Homo sapiens: one gene and its partners. The protein of the gene in region 1 interacts with the protein of each later gene in a biochemical or structural test. Each region holds a gene or a part of one and is shown on either strand. Other genes may lie near its edges.

Evidence for each region. Proteins that work in one complex are often made in the same cells at the same time.
Region 2: of the proteins of LRRK2 (region 1) and MBP, one has a biochemical effect on the other in vitro, tested with the Homo sapiens proteins (6 studies listed by BioGRID).
Region 3: of the proteins of LRRK2 (region 1) and MSN, one has a biochemical effect on the other in vitro, tested with the Homo sapiens proteins (9 studies listed by IntAct).

Annotation. Positions count from the first base shown.
Region 1 is NC_000012.12:40,220,170-40,228,004, reverse strand, and holds the start of LRRK2 (leucine-rich repeat serine/threonine-protein kinase 2), read right to left. Parts: upstream 3,009-7,835; 5' UTR 2,874-3,008; coding exon 2,723-2,873; intron 2,451-2,722; coding exon 2,365-2,450; intron 1-2,364. UniProt on the Homo sapiens protein: Serine/threonine-protein kinase which phosphorylates a broad range of proteins involved in multiple processes such as neuronal plasticity, innate immunity, autophagy, and vesicle trafficking.
Region 2 is NC_000018.10:76,978,314-76,982,796, forward strand, and holds the end of MBP (Golli-MBP), read right to left. Parts: intron 4,002-4,483; exon of another isoform or gene 3,865-4,001; intron 3,677-3,864; exon of another isoform or gene 2,159-3,676; coding exon 2,114-2,158; 3' UTR 520-2,113; downstream 1-519. UniProt on the Homo sapiens protein: The classic group of MBP isoforms (isoform 4-isoform 14) are with PLP the most abundant protein components of the myelin membrane in the CNS. They have a role in both its formation and stabilization.
Region 3 is NC_000023.11:65,712,641-65,719,672, reverse strand, and holds part of MSN (moesin), read right to left. Parts: intron 2,856-7,032; coding exon 2,772-2,855; intron 1-2,771. UniProt on the Homo sapiens protein: Ezrin-radixin-moesin (ERM) family protein that connects the actin cytoskeleton to the plasma membrane and thereby regulates the structure and function of specific domains of the cell cortex.

The DNA of each region.
Region 1 (7,835 bases):
TCACCTTATATGTCTATCAACAGATTAACAAAGAAAATATGGAGGCCGAGGCAGGAGGATTACTTGAGGTCAGGAGTTTGAAACTAACCTGGGCAACATAGCAAGACTCCATCTCTACAAAAAGTAAAAAAAGAAAAAAAAATTAGCTGAGCATGGTGGCACATGCTTATAGTCCTAGCTACCTGGGAGGCTGAGGCAGGAGGACTACTTCAGCCCAGGATTGCAGGCCTGCAGTGAGCTTTGATCACACCACTGCTCTCCAGTCTGGGCAACAGAGTGAGACCCTGTCTCTAAATTAATTACTTAACTAAAAATAAAAGAAAATGTGGTATACATACACAATGGAATATTATTCAGTCATAAAAAATGAAATCCTGTCATTTGCAACAGCATGGGTGGGACTGGAGGTCATTAGGTTAAATTAAATAAGCCAGGTACAGAAATAAAATATTGCATAATCTCACTCATATGTAGGAGCGGAAAAGGTGGATCTCATGGAGGAAGAGAGTAGAATGGTGGTTACCAGAGACTGGAAATGAAAGGATGGGGAGGGATAAAGAGAAGGTGGTTAATGTGTACAAAAATATAATTAGATACAAGCAATTAAGTTAATATTTAATAGTATAGCAGGGAAATTATGGTTAATAATTCATTGCATATTTTAAAATAGCTAGAAGAAAGAAATTGCAACGTTGCCAACACAAAGAAAAATGTTCGAGGTGACGGATATTCCAGTTACCCTGATTTGAACATTACACATTGTATACATGTATCAAATAGCATATGTATCCCCAAAATATATACAACTATGATATATCCAAAAAAGTAATTAATTACTTTTAAAAAAACTCTTCCTTATTTTCCAGCATACTTTGCCTCTGGTACTCTCTAGGCAGAAATACTAAGTGACACTCATAACTACTCCGGACAAGTATGCTCAGGCTTGGGCAATTTCTAAAATTAAGAATTAGGAAGTATGTTCCAGGCTCCCCTGGGTTGTCAAGTATAGCACTGCCTTATCTAGACCCTGCAGACCAAAACGCCTACCCAGGATCTGACTGTCCTGAGCAGTATCAAGCAGGAGTGACTCTATCAAGTACAGAGTCTAGGGAATGAAGGTGGCCAGAATCAGGCACTTCTGAACACCAAAGCAGAGACAAGTAAGAAGGGATGACGTGGGTGCAGAGCAGGAAGCACAATAGGCCAGTGCCCAAAAAGTGACTCATATTCCACAGGCAAAATTCCGACTTTGAGTCTTAAAAGAACAGCATCTTTATTATGCCTCCATCTTTTCTTGGTTTGGTTTGATAGCAGCGTGAAAATCTATAATAGTCAGATGGAAAATATTTCACAGTTGAAAACAAATTAAAATATTTCTTCCAGATGTAAATGTCCTCATATCAAAGAAGCTAGATGGTTCACCCAGACTAGATACAGCTAGATACAGAGATAAACATCAAGATAAAGATAGACCCACACCACTTTAAAGATTGAGATGCCTCATGTCTGTCAAGCCTCTCAACCATTAAGAAACATTGGCTTTCTGACTGCACCTCCAAGGAGTTCAAAGTCCAATTCTCTTTCTCTGCATGAGTTAACATGCAGATGACAAAACTGATTTCAGTTCCCCAAATCTCTAAGTGCTCCGAAGGAAGTTATCACCTTGGCCTATAATTTTGTTTTGACTGTAAATCATTCTTAATTACCATTTTTAAGGCCCCCTTTAAAAAAAAATCCAAGATACATAGCAAATTTCTGGGTTTCCTATGGTACAGATTGTAAAAGTTTCACTTCTACATGCATTTTATATGACAACAGTTGCAAACTATGAGGGTCTCATAAGACATCACTTTCTTTAGATACTACAAGGTATACTACAACTAAAGGCTAGAAATCTTTGAATTTTAAAAAGTGCTGAACTCTACAAGAGTTTGCTAGTGACAAAGTTGCATTTTATCACTATTAATTATTCCCCTTTTCCAAACTATTCATAATCTTCTCATCTAGGACATGCTCTGTATTGGGAAGATACTTGGAATAGTCAAGTCTAAACACTAATGAATTCATCTTGCCAATAACGAGACTAAAACCGAACCCATTTTTATCCTCCTTCTACCACCATCCATACTGTTGGTTTTATAAAGTTACTTCTTAAAGACACTCAGGGAACACATACTGGGGCTCTTCATCCCGTTTACATTGCGTAATGATTTAACAATATTCCCATCTTAAAATCACAGTCAGAGGTTCCTCAAGCCAAATTTTGGGAATAACCAAGAACTCTCGGCTATATTAACATTGCCAGTAAAACGTCTCCTTCCAAACAGAAGGGAGAATGAGTTGAAGTGAAAACAATGCCTTTACCTGCTGCACACTCGCGACTCTCATATAGGAGTCCAAGACGATCAACAGAGGCACATGGATATTTTTGCCTTGAAATAACTTGGAGGCTGGAAAACAAGTGGGTGGGGAAAAGAAGCAAAGTCACAATCCACAGCACCCCCTCTCCTTTTTAGTCTGAAACGGGGAGAAAAGTCAAAAAGGTGAAGACCTTCCTGAAATTCTCAGCTGCTTTCTGCCCTAAGGAAAGGATATGGGAGTTTGCGGCTCCTTAAGAGTCCGGGTTTGAGCAGGGTCAAGGGGAGGAGGACAAAATTTGCAAATGTAAGGAGGGGGAGAAAGTTTGCAAAAATAAAAGCACAGTTTATTTTCAAGTGATTACCGCGCTCGGAGTACGTGAACACCAGCAGATCCTCCAGGATTTGGACCAGCGTTTCTATCTGTTTTCCTTCCTGGACATTGTTCAGCCTGACTATCAACTTCTTCAGAGTTTCCTCGTCCTCTTCGCACCCCTGACAGCTGCCACTAGCCATGGTGGCACCTGCTTCCAACCCGCCGCCCTCCCAGCATGAACGTCCGCTGCTCAGGGAACCGGCAGGGGCGCCGGCCACAGCTCCCCGGGGGCGAGCTCAGCTCACCGCCCGCAGCCAGCGCTCCCCGCGGGCCCCATCGGCGCCCACGCCCGCCTGTTTATGAGGAAGGAGGCAGCTCCCCGCCCCGCGTTGCCCTCCCTCTCCGGAGCCCTCCTGCTCGGCTTCCTCCTCCCCCACTCAGGCCCCAAAAACGAGCTCAGGGGCCTGCCAGAGGCTCCGCCGAGGCGACGGGCCGCGCAGAACTCTGGCGGCGGCCGTGGGGCTGCTGGAGCCGGGCCTGGCTGGGATGACCGTGACCGTGGCCCCCACGCACGCCTAGACCGGACCCCGGGCGGACGCCGCCTCCTGGGACCAGATTCCACCGCAGCGGCGGCGCGGCCGGGAGTCGCGCGGGAAGAAACTGACTCAGCGGACTCCGCTGAGTCCACAGGCCCGGAGCCCCGCAGCGGAGGCGCGCAGTGCGCAGCCCGGCCGGCCACCCTCCGCGACCCGCCAGCCGGGGATCCTGCGGCCCCACGGAAGGTCTGGGAACTGGGAGCAGGAAAAATGAAAGCCGCCTATCTCCAGATCTAAGAATAGAAATCAGGGCGCTGGGAAAAGAGGACACCGCCCAGATGGCCCCTTTTAGGAATACATTGTCTTTAGAGTTCCACCTATAGGGAGATGAGCAATTTTCCCCCAAAGGATGGAAAGAGGGGTTAGCCATCAAAACTGCCCCCGCTACTCTTTTTTATGATTTTTTGTGACTGTTAGTGGGAGAGGAAATAAACATTGTTTCCCTGTGAGTTATCTGAAGCTCTGGTCACCAAAAGGCCACTAAATTAACTTTTGGAAATTTGAGTTGCACTAGGCAGGATCCTGATACTTGGGACACCCGAAAAGTAATCAGCTCTCAGAGCTATTAGAGCTGAGACAAAGGACAGGGTACATGAAATGAAAGGTGAAAAGTTGAGAGAAGCAAACCTAAATACTCTTCTCTTGGTATTCAGAAATACTTATGAGTATGGGTGTCTATAACCCCAAAGTTTTTTGGTTTTGTCTTTTGATTGTTTGTTTGTTTGTTCTGTTAAGTACCTAAGTAATGTGTTTTTAGGAAAAGAAACCTAGCAAGAACATTGTAGACAAGGCTAGGCAAAGATGATCTATCCTTCAGGTGATGTGTCTGTCCTCAAGATCACTTACAAAGAAGAGGATTGGACTGGAAGTTACTACTTCACAATTTTAGTTTTGTTTTCACATCTGTTACTTCAATCCTGATGACAATTCTGAAATGGATACAACTACTACTATGTATCCTTCTTTCACTAGTGAGGAAATTGAGATTTGGAATTGAGAAGTGAAGAGCTTTGCTGGAGTCACACAGGTGGGAAGTTGAGAGCCAGGACTTCAACCCAGCAAATCTCCTAACTCCAGGTAGAAGGTTCTTCATGCTCTACCACTTTAATAAGAATGCTCTAGACTTTGTTAATACATTAGATTAGTAAGATAGCAAACTCCTACTCAACCTGGATATTGGGTCTATGTCTTGTTGTTATAGAGTCTTTAACTTTTACAGAGACATGCTAAAATATTTATAGTTGAAATGGTTAGGATTTCTTTCAAAGTCATCCAGTGGTGGAGGAAAAGATGAAATGTGTGGAGATAGAGATAACGATAACAACTTTTGAATTGATAATTGTTGAAGATAATATGAGATGGGTTCATGTGGTCTGTTCTACTATTGTATCTATATAAAATTTTCCATAATTTAACAAAAAACTCCCAATCTTACAATATTTATCAGACCTACAGTGTATTATTTTCTAAGTTGTTTCTAAACTTGTTTCCATTTCTGATGACTTAATCAATGTCTCAAACATTTCTAGGCATTCTCCATCTCATGCATTCCTTCTGTTCCTCTGCATTAGTTTCTCCCTTCCTGTTCTACTGAATTACAACCTTGCAAGAAATTAAAACCTACCTCCCTTCCAAAGAAAAATAAATCTAAATTAAAAGATGTCTCCTAATTTCCACAATTCATTCATCCATCTATTGCCTATTTATTATCTACTCTATATTGGCCAGACTGTGAGTAGACAGTGTGAAAATATGAATTATTTGTTGGGAGCATTCTCCCATGAACTACTGCAGTGTTAAGGTAAAGTATTCTCTTAGTTTTCAAAAATGTTTAATTGATTGACTGAAATTCCAAGATTTATCAACTCTTCAAGTAGTTAACAAGACTGAAAATGAAGATTAAGGCATGAATTTATGATGGAAGCAGGGTTCAGTGGAGAATAAAATGGTGCTAGAACATTTGGCTAATTTCCTGAAAAGAAAAAAAATAAAACTGACATTACTAATTACAGCAAACATCAAATAGATTAAAAAGTTAAATAAAAATAACTTCAAAAATAAAATATAAATTAATAGTTATATAATCTTGAAAAAGGAAACATAAAAACAAAAAAGAAATCACATAAGGGTAGTATATGTGACTCCATCAAATTTAAATTTTCTGCAGTCAAAGAAAAAATACCCAATAATGAAACTAGAAGTCAAACGGCAAACAGGAAGAAAAAATTTGAAATACATATGATGAAATACAATTTGCCTTCAACTTTCAAAAGTTCTTACAAATCACTGGGAGGAGGGTATTACGCCACAGATAGACCAGGAAAAAAAATAATAAACTAAGGTTTTGAAAAGGAAATTCATTTTGAATGACCAATAAGTATTTTTTAATGTCATCATTATAAAAAAAATGTGTTCCTAAACATGAGTGATGCACAAGCATAAAGTGCAATTGTGTGTGTGTGTGTGTATGATGACAATGAAAGGGAAACCTTGAAAATAAATTAACAAATATTTACAAAACCTTTATGAATAAATTATTGAACTCTGTTAAAAGGCATTAAAAAGGCATGAATAAATATTAATATCACATTAATTAATGGGAAAACTAAATTCAAAAATATGTCAATTCTCTACAAAGTAATAAAAAACAATGCAAGATTAGTGAAATTCTCAACAAGATTTACATAGATTTCAGCAAGATCAAAAGGCCTAGTATAGACTAGACACTTTTGAAGAAGGACAAGATGGGAGAATTGCCATCTTGTCCTTTTGGATGTCCAATTGACATCCATTCAGAGTATGTAGTAGCCTTTCTCTATCAATTTCTGAAGAAGGAAAAAGTACCCCTAGGATGAAAGCGGGGAGCCCTGAAAGCACATAGTTTACCCAGCAGGCAGTCTTTCTATGAATTAGAAAAAAGTGCCTTTTAGGTAGGCACAGCCTTATATCTGGGTGTATCAAGCAGGATTTGGATTTCAGTCTCTACCCTGGTGTTCTTATGGAGGACACAACTTATACAGTATAGGAAGCATTATACTTTTTTGAAGCTATAGAAATTAATTGGCATGTTATTGACACAGCTATACAAAGTGACCAATGAGAGTATAGAAAACCCAGAAACACATCTTCACATATATGGAAATGATATATGAGAGATGTTGCATTATGTATCAGTGGAAAAAAAAAGGGCAATTTGATAAATGAATCTGAGACCACTGTTTGTGGAAAAAGCATCAAATGATTATGCCTACCTCACACCATATTCAAAAATAAATTCCACATGGATTGAACATTTTTGTATAAAAAATGAAAACAGGCCAGGTGCAGTGGCTCATGACTGTAATCCCAGCACTTTGGGAGGCCCAGGTGGGATGATCACTTGAGCTCAGGAGTTCGAGACCAGCCTGGCCAACATGGTGAAACCCCGTCTCCACTAAAAATACAAAAATTAGCCAGGTGTGGTGGCACGTGCATGTAATCCGAGCTACTGGGGAGACCGAGCCAGGAGAATTGCTTGAACCCAGGAGGCAGAGATTGCAGTGAGCCAAGATCGCACCATTGCACTCCAGCCTGAGTGAAGAAGTGAGACTGTCTCAAAAAAAAAAAAAAATTTGAAAAAAATATAGAAAACTATCTGACATTAAGAGGGAAAGAAACAAAACAAAAATTACAGTTAAGGCCAGGTATGGTGGCTCACACCTGTAATCCAAGCACTTTGGGAAGCCGAGGTGGGAGGCTTACTTGAGGCCAAGAGTTAAGACGATCCTGGGAAACATAGAGAGACCTTGTCTCTACAAAATATTTAAAAATTAGCCAGGTATGGTAGTGCATGCCAGTAGTCCTAACTTCTCAGGAAGCTTGAGGCAAGGGGATCACTTGATTCCAGGAGTTATAGGTTACACTGAGCTACAATTGTGACACTGCACTCCAGCTTGAGGGACAGAGCAAGGCCCTGTCTCTAAACTAAAAAAAAATAAAATAAAATCACAGTTCATATAGGAAAAAATTATTAAATTTACAGACATTAAAATCTAACACTATACAAAAGACTCCATCAACAAAGTTAAAAGATGACCATAGGCTGGAAGATTTTGGGAAAGCGTGTAACAATTAAAAATTAATAAGAAGAATATATAAAAGGTACTATCACAAATTATAAATGAAAAGATAAGTATCCTAGTTTTTATATATATAAGTTTAAAAAATATGGCCAGGCACGGTGGCTCATGCCTTAATACCAGCACTTTAGGAGGCCAAGGTGGGTGGATCACTTGAGGCCAGGAGTTTGAGACCAGCCTGACCAACATGGTGAAACCCTGTCTTACTAAAAATATAAAAATTAGCCAGTTGTGGTGGTGCATGCCTGTAATCACAGCTACTTGGGAGGTTGAGGCAGGAGAATTGCTTGAACCCAGGAGGTACAGGTTGCAGTGAGCCAAGATGGCACCACTGCACTCCAACCTGGGCCACAGGGCGAGAATATGTCTAAAAATATATATATTATATATATATGTGTACATATATGTACATATATATGTACATTATATATATGTACATTATATATAT
Region 2 (4,483 bases), on another chromosome or scaffold:
GCAGTGAGCCAAGATTGCAGCACTGCACTCCAACCTGGGTGGCAAAGTAAGATCCTGTCTCAAAAGAAAAAGAAAAAACAAAAGAGACTTTCGTCTATCTTTTTGAAGAAAAATTCTTGTAACCAAAGGTAACTATAAGTAAAACATTGCTTCACGCTCTTTCATGCTTTCAGAGAAAAAGGTGGCAAGGGGAACACGTCCAAGACTCCTGGGTTCACATCTGCAGGGTGTGTACACTAGCCACACAGCAGAACACAGACAGACTTGGAAGCTTGTCTTCAGAGACACTAAATATTTTTTTCCTGGTGAGAGAATCAGTGCCCTAACAACTACCTCTGTTCCACTTTCTTCAGTAGCCATCGACCCTCTGATGAGGATGCCCCCTCCAACAGGCACCGCCAGGCAGCCCTGCCTGGAGACCCAGAGGCACCGAGTCACATTTGCTCTGCACACCTGGCTCTCGCTTGATGTGGGCCTGTGTGCTACAGCCCGGAACACAAAAGAAGACACCCATGCAAATACCATTAAAAGTTTATTGTTTTATTTCAATATTCAGGAACAGTGTACACTTTCCGTTCAGCCATCGTCACAGCACGTGCTGTGTGGGTGCGGCCACGTATGGATCGCAGAGCCGACCTCAGCTCAGCGACGCAGAGTGCTTCTGCTGAAAAATTTGGAGGTTTGTGTCTGGAGTTTTGTTCTTTGTAACTCTCTCATCATCGAGGCTATATATTAATAGACATGGTATTAAGCCCACACGAAACATTCAGAATTAGAATTGGATTAAGAAGACGCGTTTTGGCATCACGCTGACTACTCCTCATCTCCGTCCTCGGGGAGGGTGATGCCAGCGTGGGACTCTTTGGAAGGCCTATCAATCACAGGTGCGCTAAAATCAAAAGGTGGGTCAGTAGGTTAGGGAGGGAGGCGCGAAAGGAGATGCCAGCGGGTGTTAAGAAGGATATGGTCAGAAGAGCTCTTTGTCTCCATCCACGGGGCCGTCTGCTCAGCCCGTGTGTCTCGGTGAGTAATTCGGGAGCAGGTGCACGCCTGTGCCTACTCGCTACCACGCGTCTTCTGGGAGGAAGTGAATGAGCCGGTTATCTTCTCAGGGAGGGTTAGTGCTGGCCACTGTGCACTGCCGCTGCCAGCACGCCCGGTCACAGCCAGTGTCTATGGGCGACTGGCGCGGCTGCGAGGCTGTCTAGAGGACTCCTACCCTTCTGCTCTGAGTGCGCAAGTCTTCCTGGACTCTCCGGCTGTGGGCTGTGGTTTGGAAACGAGGTTGTTCATAGAGGCTGCTCTGGGGCCACCATGCAGGGCAACGGTGACGTCCAGAGGCCACCTGCTTGACATCTCCATCACCAAATCTCCAGGAAGACCCTGTTTCCTATGTGAGGCCATTGCCCAGCCCACGTTTGCCTCCTTTTCCTCCCTCTGCCACACGCGAATTCAGCTAATTGGGGTGTGTGGGCAGCCACGGCCTGGGGAGGTGGCCCCCTCTCTGTGCTGCCCCACGTTGGACTCTAACAGCTGCCCAGCCCGCATGTCACATACCAAAAGCTCCCACATGTAGTAAGCCACTCCTTGACTGTCTAATCCTGTTAGGAAAAATGAAGTCTACTTTAGGAGGTGAGAGAAGGACAGGAAAAAAAAACAAAGGAAGCTTGGATGTCAACAGTCCTCTCTGCCGCCCACGTCCTCTCTGTCTCTGCAGCTGTGTGCCTCCATGGCAGTGACCAGCAAAAGCGCAAGGGTGCCGCAGCCACGGCGAAAAGAAAGTCCAAGGGTGGAGGGGTGAACGTGGAGGGACGTCTGTGCACCTGGCCCCCTGAAGACCCACGTGCGTCTGGGGGCACATTGCGGGGGAAGGAACGTGATCTTCACACAGAAAGGGACAGTTTTAACCGTTTTCTGTTTTCATGTTCTCATTTAACTGTTGGCCGGAAATTGCCGGTAGGCTGCCGTGGCCTGACCCTACTACGTGCACAACTCCGCAGGCATTAGGGGAGGGGTCATCTGCTCTAATTAGGTAACAGGGGCAAGTGGGATTAAAGTTTTAAGGCAGTTATATTAAGAAGCTGAGGACAGGATTCCGGAACCAGGTGGGTTTTCAGCGTCTAGCCATGGGTGATCCAGAGCGACTATCTCTTCCTCCCTGAAAAGGAAGAGAGAGGAGTTAGGACGAGAGTGCCGCAGGGTCCTCCCACACCAGCATCCCCTCTTCTGTGGTCCCGGGTGGATGCTGAGCCATTGGGTGTCTCTCTCATCTGCTAATAGAAATGGCACCCCGGAGAGCTGGTCTTTTCATTCCATTTCTCCCGACCTCCCTCAGCAAATGCTAATTGAATTTCCAGTTCTGTGAGAGAGAACTGGAATCGGATTCCCAGGCCCCAGGGAGTGGTGCCTGGCATAACCACTGCTCTGCAAAACAACGCTGCACTTCTGTGGGTGAAAGTGCAGCCGCTCCATTGCTTTGCTTTGAATGAGCACTTTTTCTCGTCAGCTAGAGGTGCCAGGGCAGCCGAGGGGAACTGCCAGCGACAACAGGAGCAACTTCTTTTTCGGCGGGACCCTAGCACACCCCTTGCTACACGCGCCAGCAAAGAGCAAAGCCACGTGTCCATCCCTGGGGACGTCCCTCCTATGTGCCATCTCATCTGCCACACCAGACAAATCAAATGCACAGAGAGCTTTGTCTGCAAACTTTGACTTGAAGGGGTCTTAAAACCATGCATTTACACGTTTGGGGGACAAATAATTTCGATGTTTAAAAGAGAGTTGGCAGCTAATTGAGATGGTGCACAGGTGTGCTGTGGCCCACGGTGTGGAGGTAGCCAGGCGTGGCCATCCCTCTAGAAAGAGGAATGCGTTGGTCACTCAGAATGTCACTTAGATCGACGAAGCAGAACTGCACTTTTTTTGCATTCAAATTTTTATTCAAAGTTTAGTCTCTCTCCTTGGGTTTCCCCTCTTTTATGAAATGATCAATTTTGGCGAAGAGCCCCCAGAAAGCAAGATAGAAAAGAAATATGCTCTTTACCGTGGCCGATCAGCAACGAACCAACACTGTCCTCATCTAATTCTACGTCTTCCACACTGCCCAGTAACACAAATAACCAGAGCGCAGACGCCAAGAATCCTTCCAAGTAACGCAGCTAACAGACCAAGGTGACAGTTCTGACTTCTTGGGGGGTTTTCCAAGTACATACGTAGCATTATAAACAAGCCTCTATGTTGTGCTTACACAACTCACTCAAGGGATTTTTGTTTTCACAAGTGAAAACGTTTATGAAATGCTAGCCTGCGAAGCCGCTTCAGGAACCATCTAGTGAGATTTCCCTCCCAAGACAGGCAGCTTTCTCACATACCGTGGAGGCCTCCTGCCGGCCTGGGGACTGACAGGTGCAGGGCCCTGCCCCTCGAGGGCCAGCCTCTCCCTCGGGAGCGTGGGTTTTTCCTGTTTGATCCTGGCTTAACTTGAACATCTCTGGCATTGGAGCTGCCCTCTGGAGTAGCCCAGAAGTTGGCACTCACCTCACCTTTTGCTGCATTTCCAAGAGATCAGCCTTTGGACTTCCTGGAAAGTGGTAGAACCACTGTCCTATGAAACAAAGTGCTTCTGTGCTGAAATGGAGTAAGTTCCCTGCAGCCTCTGGCAAGGTAACCTACCGAGGTACAATCTTAACTTTCTTGATGCCCCCTTTTGACATTGAAAATGGTGGGTGTATTGGTTTTACTTTTTATCATTGAAACTACAATTTGTTGAGCACTGACCATGCAGGAAACCCGTTTTTCCCCGTTTTCTCTTTTGTGCTCACAGCACCTCCTGGAGTAGGTGTTCCTATCATCCTCTCTTTATAGCTCAGGAGCCAAAGCTCAGCCAGCCCGAAGGAGCCAGGATTAGAGCCTGCATGGATGCAACAGTCACGCTTCTCTCTATTACGTGTCTTGCAACTTGGAGTCACATGATCTCAGCATCTGATCCACCCTGGGCTCAGGTCAGTATAAGGCTGAACTCACAAGGTGAGGGTTAGACTGACCTCCTCTCTCAGGACAGGAAAAGAACAGAGCCTACTGCAAAAGGCAGATACTCTTGCCTCCACTTTGACATCTCACAACTCCACAGCAACACTACAGGTGGGAAAACATTCACATGTATGTTCGTGGAAACTAATGCACATGGAAACAGGATGCTCCTATGATGTTCTGATGTAGTTTCCGAGTGATGGGGGGACATGCATAGTTTTTTCTACCCAGTTCCTACCGACAGCGCTAGACTTCCAGATTTGAGTGTTTTCCTCTCACTACTGATTTCCAACAGCACCAAAAAGAACAGGAAGGAAAGATGGTAAAATGATGTTAAATGCTATGAAGTCCCTGTCCTCTCCATCTGCCTGCCTCTAGACCCCCTCATTTCTGGGGGAGCTGATTTATTAATCTATTGGAAGTGCTCCAAGTCAACTAATTCAGCCATATGGCC
Region 3 (7,032 bases), on another chromosome or scaffold:
CTGTAAAATCTGCACTGACTAACCGCTTCCCTCTCTAATAGCTGCTACCCAGAATGATACTGCTGTCTAAAGCAAAGGGCCCAAAAGCCTATGTGTTCTATGGACACTTCCTCCCTTTTGTCTTAGAGACAGTAAAAAGCCTGTCAAGGAAGAGATGATCCCCCTGCCAGCTAGCCCTACCTCCTCACATATGCCAGCAGCTGATCATACTCAGGTGAGGCATTTCTCTCCTTTTTACAGAAAAGGATTGTCTGAAATCCCAATACTAGGAACAGAAATGGGAGAGAAAGAGAGATGGAATGCACAAATAAATGCCAGAGATAAATTTTCTGAGAGATAACCAGATTTGAGAAACAAGTTAGGCATTGTACAGATGAGAAACTGAGGCCCAAATAAGGGAAACGTTTGTATCACAGCGAATTAGTGATAGAGCCAACCCTACAGCCCAAGATTCATGACTTTCTATCCAGGCCCTTTTGACTTCACTAGGCTGTCCCTTTAAAAGTTCTCCAATATAACCTCCATGTGAAGAGAGAATGCAAAGCACAATTATAATTAGAATGCATTTAGTCATTCCAGACTAGCACCATAATCACTTGTGAGCTATGTGAATGTAAGCACATCACTTTAATTGTAGTAAACTTGTATTTAAATATTCCTCAGACTAATTTGTATTTTCACCAATTAAGTATCAATGATTACACTTTGCCATTCAAAGTAAAACAAACACAAAACAAACTCCAGAGAAGTAAGTTCCACCTAAATCTGAAGTTAGATATTCTGAGGATCATTAAGCCCATCTCCCAATTCTCCCAATTCTAGATTATTTTTCTTTACTTTTTTTTTTTTTTTTTAGAGACAGAGTCTTGCTCTGTCACCTAGGCTGGAGTACAGTGGCGTGATCATAGCTCACTGTAACCTTGAACTCCTGGGCTTGAGCAACCCTCCTGGCACAATCTCCTGAGTAGCTGGGACTATAGGTGTGCACCACCATGCCATGCTAATTTTTAAATTTTTTGTAGAGACAGGGTCTCGCTGTGTTACCCAGGCTGGTCTCGAGCCCCTGGGCTCAAGCAATCCTCCCATCTCAGTGTTAGGATTACAGACATGAGCCACCACATCACGTCAACTCCAGCTCAATTAATAATACAAGAAGCACAATGGTATTGGAAAGGGAGCTATCATTTATTACTTCTCTACCATATGCTGGATGCTTTCTTCCAGCTAACACTTTCTTTCCTATTTGTGTTTTCTTATCTTTCTCACCTATTTCGAATTTATCTTTTTGGATTGGACATCCTTATATGCCACTATAATCAGATTTTTGAGTAACAGGTAAGATACAAAACATAACACACTCACAAAAATCCTGTGAGGTAAGTATTAGATATTTCTCGGGGGGAGGGGATGAAGATACCAACCCAGAGAGTTCAATAATTTTCCCAGGGTCTAACTAGGAAAATGAGGATTTTGTGTCCTCATCTGTAAAACATGCCCATACTAATTCATGCACTCACAGAGCTTTGTGATAGTCAAATGCTTATCATAATACTTAGCATACACTGAGTCCTGGATAAATGTTAACTCTCATCTGTATTAGCCACAGACAATAATTTTCCCACTCTATGTAATAAGAACTCAGAAGGTGTACCCAAGCTGTCCTCAAATTTCTAGCCCTCTCCTACCCCTGTCTCCATTCTACTCTTGTCTTTTCTCTCACCAGTCAGAAGTATTCACAGGAATAGAATTAGCTTATTTGAACACTACCTCCTTCTTTTTTTCTTCCTCTCTCCAACCCTGGGGAAGTTCTCATATGGTAGAAGGACACAGAGAGCAAGGAAGAAAGGGAAGCAAGAGGGCCTGGAGAATCCATCAGGGTGATATGCAGCCTAACATCCTGGACAATAACTCAGACCTCCACTTCATCGGAGTCTGGTGGAGAAATAGGATAATGGCCTGTCTGGTGAGGTCCCAGCCTCTGGAAATGGGAGCCTCATTTTTGCTCCTAGAAGTCTGGCCACAGACGGCACATTCCCTTGAATGCTAAAAATGTCTGTAGCTGCCATCTGTTTATTATAGTATACAGTACATCCTTTCTGACAATAATGATTCACAATGAAGGGACACCCCTTGGGTTGGAGATGGGAATGACCTCTTCACTATGGCGAGTAAGCAATTATCTTCATGGCATGCCTGTAGGAGATGAAGCAGCCTCCTACTGCATCCATCAACTCCCATGTTGTCCTAAGTCCCAACATTCTTTTGAGAGAAATGTGCATAGAGCTTACTACCTCAGGGAGAGTAAGTTAGTTTCCTTCTACTAGGAAGCAAAAACATGGGACAGAGGCAGTGTGGTGCAGTGGCAACAATGTGGAGTGCAAATCCCAGCCAAATATCATTTGGGTGCAATTAAGTTATTTAACTTCTGAGCCTCATCATTAAAATGGAGAAGACATCACTTACATGTTTCAGAGTTAAAAGGAAGGCTCCATATGCTAAGATTTTTAAAGCATCTAGCATAGAATATACACCATTTTCTTTTCTCCCTTATTCAGGACCAAAGATAAAATTAATCAGGACCATAGGGTGCAGGCTGCCAAAGTTTAACTTTGCCTCCTTTCATATTAAGTCTGGAATCAGCCTTCATTTTGATCTATCTTGGAGTGAACAGGAAGAGAGATTCTTTGACAAGAGGCAAAAGTCATGGATTGTTGGCATTGTGGTGGAAGCTATTCAGAGAAGGAGAGGAGGCTAAGGAGTCTCCGCCTTACCTGGTCAAATAGCTGCTTCCCGGTGGTGTTGGGCTGGATGGCAAACTCCAGCTCTGCATCCATGGTGGTCACACGCACACTGATCTAGGATGAGATCAAAGGAAGCAGGTTAGTCATCTGGCTCTGTGTTCAACAGAGCCTGAGACAAGTGTCTCTGCTCAACCACAGAGGAAGGAGTTAGGATGCTAAGAGCCTGGGCAACTTAGATACTGATGGGGATGAAGGGAGAATATTGACCCAAACACAACCCCTGCTCCCAAGCAGCTTATTGAAGACAAACAACACAGCCACAGAGCAATACTTACCAAAGAACAGACAAGCATGAAGGCCGGGTGCAATGCCTCATGCCTGTAATCCCAGCACTTTGGGAGGCCGAGGTGGGTGGATTGCTTGAGGCCAGGAGTTCGAGACCAGCCTGGGTAACATGGCAAAACCCCATCTCTACTAAAAATACAAAAATTATCCGGGCATGGTGGTGCACACCTGTAGTTCAAGCTACTTGGGAGGCTGGGGTATGAGAATCACTGGAACCCAGAAGGTAGAGGTTGCAGTGAGCCGAGATCACACCACTGCACTCCAACCTGGGCAACAGAGCGAGACTTTGTCTCAAAAAAATTTTTAAAAAAGAATGCAGATCAGCCTACAACTAAGAGCAGGCAAATGATAACTGTACTTCTTCCAGGAAGGCCTTTCCATCTATACTAGACAGCTTCATCTCACAGGGTTCTCTTCTCACCTCTGATCTACCTGGATTATCTATAGCACTGGTAAACAATTGCAGAGGCAAATTAATATCAGGACAAAGAGCACTGGGTTCCACATGATAATCTAAAGGGCAGAAAAAGCTTTCAATAAAATCTAACACCCCTTCATGTTAAAAGTTCTCAATAAACTAGGTATTGAAGGAGCATACCTCAAAATAATAAGAGCCATCTGATAAAGCCACAACCAACATCATACTGAATGCGCCAAAGCTGGAAGCATTCCCTTTTAAAACCGACACAAGACAAGAATGCCCTCTCTCACCACTCATATTCAACATAGTATTAGAAGTCCTGGCCAGAGCAATCAGACCAGAGAAAGAAATAGAGGGCAACCAAGCAAGAGGAGAGGAAGTCAAACTATCCTTGTTTGCAGATGACATGATCCTATATCTAGAAAATCCAATAGTCTCGGCCCAAAAGCTCCTTAATCTGATAAATAACTTCAGCAAAGTCTCAGTGTACAAAAATCAACATACAAAAGTCACTAGCATTCGTATACACCAACAACAGTCAAGCCAAGAGCCAAATCAGGAAGGCAATCCCATTCAGAACTGCCACAAAAGAATAAATATCTAGGAATACTGTTAACTAGGGAAGCGAAAGATCTCTACAAGAAGAACTACAAATCACTGCTCAAAGAAATCAGATATGACACAAACAAATGGAGAAACAGTCCATGCTCATGAATAGGAAGAATCAATATTGTTAAAATGGTGATACTGCCCAAAGCAATTCATAGAATAGACTCAATGCTATTCCTATCAAACTACCAATGACATTCTTCACAGAACTAGGAAAAACTATTTTAAAATTCATATGGAAACAAAAAAACAGCCTGAATAACCATGGCAATCCTAAGCAAAAAGAACAAAGCTGGAGGCATCATGCTACCCAACTTCAAATGATACTAGAGGGCTCCAGTAACCAAAACAGCATTGTACTGGTACAAAAACAGACACAGAGACCAATGGAGCAGAATAGAGAGCCCAGAAATAAGGCCACACACCTACAACCATCTGATCTTTGACAAAGTCGACAAAAACAAGCAATGGAAAAAGGACTCCCAATTCAATAAACAGTGCTGGGATAACTGGTTAGCCATATGTAGAAGATTGAAACTGGACCCCATCCTTATCTCACATATAAAAATCAACTCTATATGTATTAAAGACTTAAATGTAAAAGTAATGTAAAACTCAAAATTATAAAAACCCTCAAAGAAAACCTACGTAATACCATTCTGAACATAGGAATGGACAAAGATTTCATAACAAAGACGCCAAAAGCAATTGCAACAAAAGCAAAAATTGACAAATGAGATCTAACTAAACTAAAGAGCTTCTGCACAGCAAAAGAAACTATCGAGTTAACAGGCAACCTACGGAACCAGAGAAAATATTTGCAAACTATGCAACTTACAAAGGTCTAATATCCAGCATCTATAAGGAACTTTAACAAATTTACAAGAAAAAAAACAACCCCATTAAAATGTGAGCAAAGGATATGAAGAGACACTTTTCAAAAGAAGACATACATGTGGCCAAGAAGCATATATAAAAAATTTACATCATTAGAGAAATGCAAATCAAAACCACAATGAGATACCATCTCACACAAGTCAGAATAGCTATTATTAAAAAATCAAAAAAAAATAATAACAGATGCTAGTGAGATTGCAAAGAAAAGGGAACCTTTATACACTGTTGGTGGGAGTGTAAATTAGTTCAACCATGGTAGAAAACAGTGTGGCAATTTCTCAAAGACCTGAAAACAAAACTACCATTCAACCCAGCAATATCATTATGGGGTATATATCCAAAGGAATATAAATCATTCTATCATAAAAATACATAAACGCGCATGTGCATTGAAGCACTATTCACAATAGCAATGACATGGAATCAACCTAAATGCCAGTCAATGGTAGACTGGATAAAGAAAATGTATGTTAGTATGCAGCCATAAAAAACAACAAGATCATGTCCTTTGCAGGAACATGAATGGAGTGGAGGTCATTATCCTTAGCAAACTAATGCAGGAACAGAAAATCAAATGCCAGACTGGGCATGGTAGCTCACACCTGTAATCCCAGCACTTTGGGAGGCCAAGATGGACGCATCCCTTGAGGCCAGGAGTTCAAGACCAGCCTGGACAATATAGCGAAACCCCATCTCTACTAAAAACACAAAAATTAGCCAGGCAAGGTGGTGCACACCTGTAATCCCAGCTACTTTGGTGGCTGAGGCACGAGAATCGCTTTAACCCGGGAGGCAGAGGTTGTAGAATACCACATGTTCTCACTTATAAGTGGGAATTAAATGATGAGAACACACAGACACATAGAAGGTGGAGGGTGGGAGGAGGGAGATGATCAGGAAAAAATATTTTAATAACTAATGGGTACTAGGCTTAATACCTGGGTGATAAAATGATCTGTACAATGAACCCCCATGACATGAGTTTACCTTATGACAAACCTGCACATGTACCCCTGAACTTAAAATAAAAATTAAAAACAAAGAAGAACACTGGATTCCAAGCCTAGCATGTAGCTGGTCAAATCTACAACCTTGGATAACTCCTGTCCTTTTCCTGGGCCTTAGTTTCCCTTACCTGTGCAAAGGCAGGAATGGGATGGAGGGCAGCCAATTAAACTAGATAAATGGTCCAAAGACCATTTCAGTGCTGATGTCGGTGGTTCTATATACTGCCTTGCATTGCTAATGCTTCCTATATTTATGTCTCATTGGCTTCCTTAGGCTCAAGAGGGGAAGGGGGCCTCAGTAGAGGTGGGTATGGGTGGCATAGAGGGGCTACCAAAGCCAACTCAGTGGGAGGACAAAGGTGCAGAAACAGGCCCAGACCAAAATAAGAGACAGCCACACACATGATTTCACGGGCACTAGAAAAAATACCACCTTTACAAATAGATCCTCGAAGCTAGGTCAATGATAGCTGAAATTTCATAATTAGAGATTTAGTCCTTTGGCTGAAAACTCAGTAGTAATGGTAGCAGTAGTAATAGTAACAGGCAGCAGCTTTCCTGTATCAAGACTTGCTACTCACCAGGCACTTCATATGTACTACCTCATTTAATATCAATAATCACCCTGTGAAGTAGAGTATTATCTCCACATTGGAGATAAAGAAATAGGTATTTGTCTAAAGTCACATTGCTATTAAGCAGGGGAGACAGGGTTTGAATCCAGGTCTAAATCCAAACCTCACAATGTAAACCAATATGCTAAATTCCTCTTACAGAGTACAAAAGTCTCCCATTAAAAGAAAAAAAAGATTGATTTTTAGTTGTTAGATATTTTGCTTAAATAATGTATATAGTACAGCCACAAAATGGCTTCTTATATGGTCATACAAAATCTTTATGAAGACTATTTCATGCTCACGGAAGACACTTTAGTAATATTGAGGAAATGTAAACAGTATTTCATAGAGTCCGTGAGCTCAACTTTGTAAAATGTATACATAGAAGGATGATT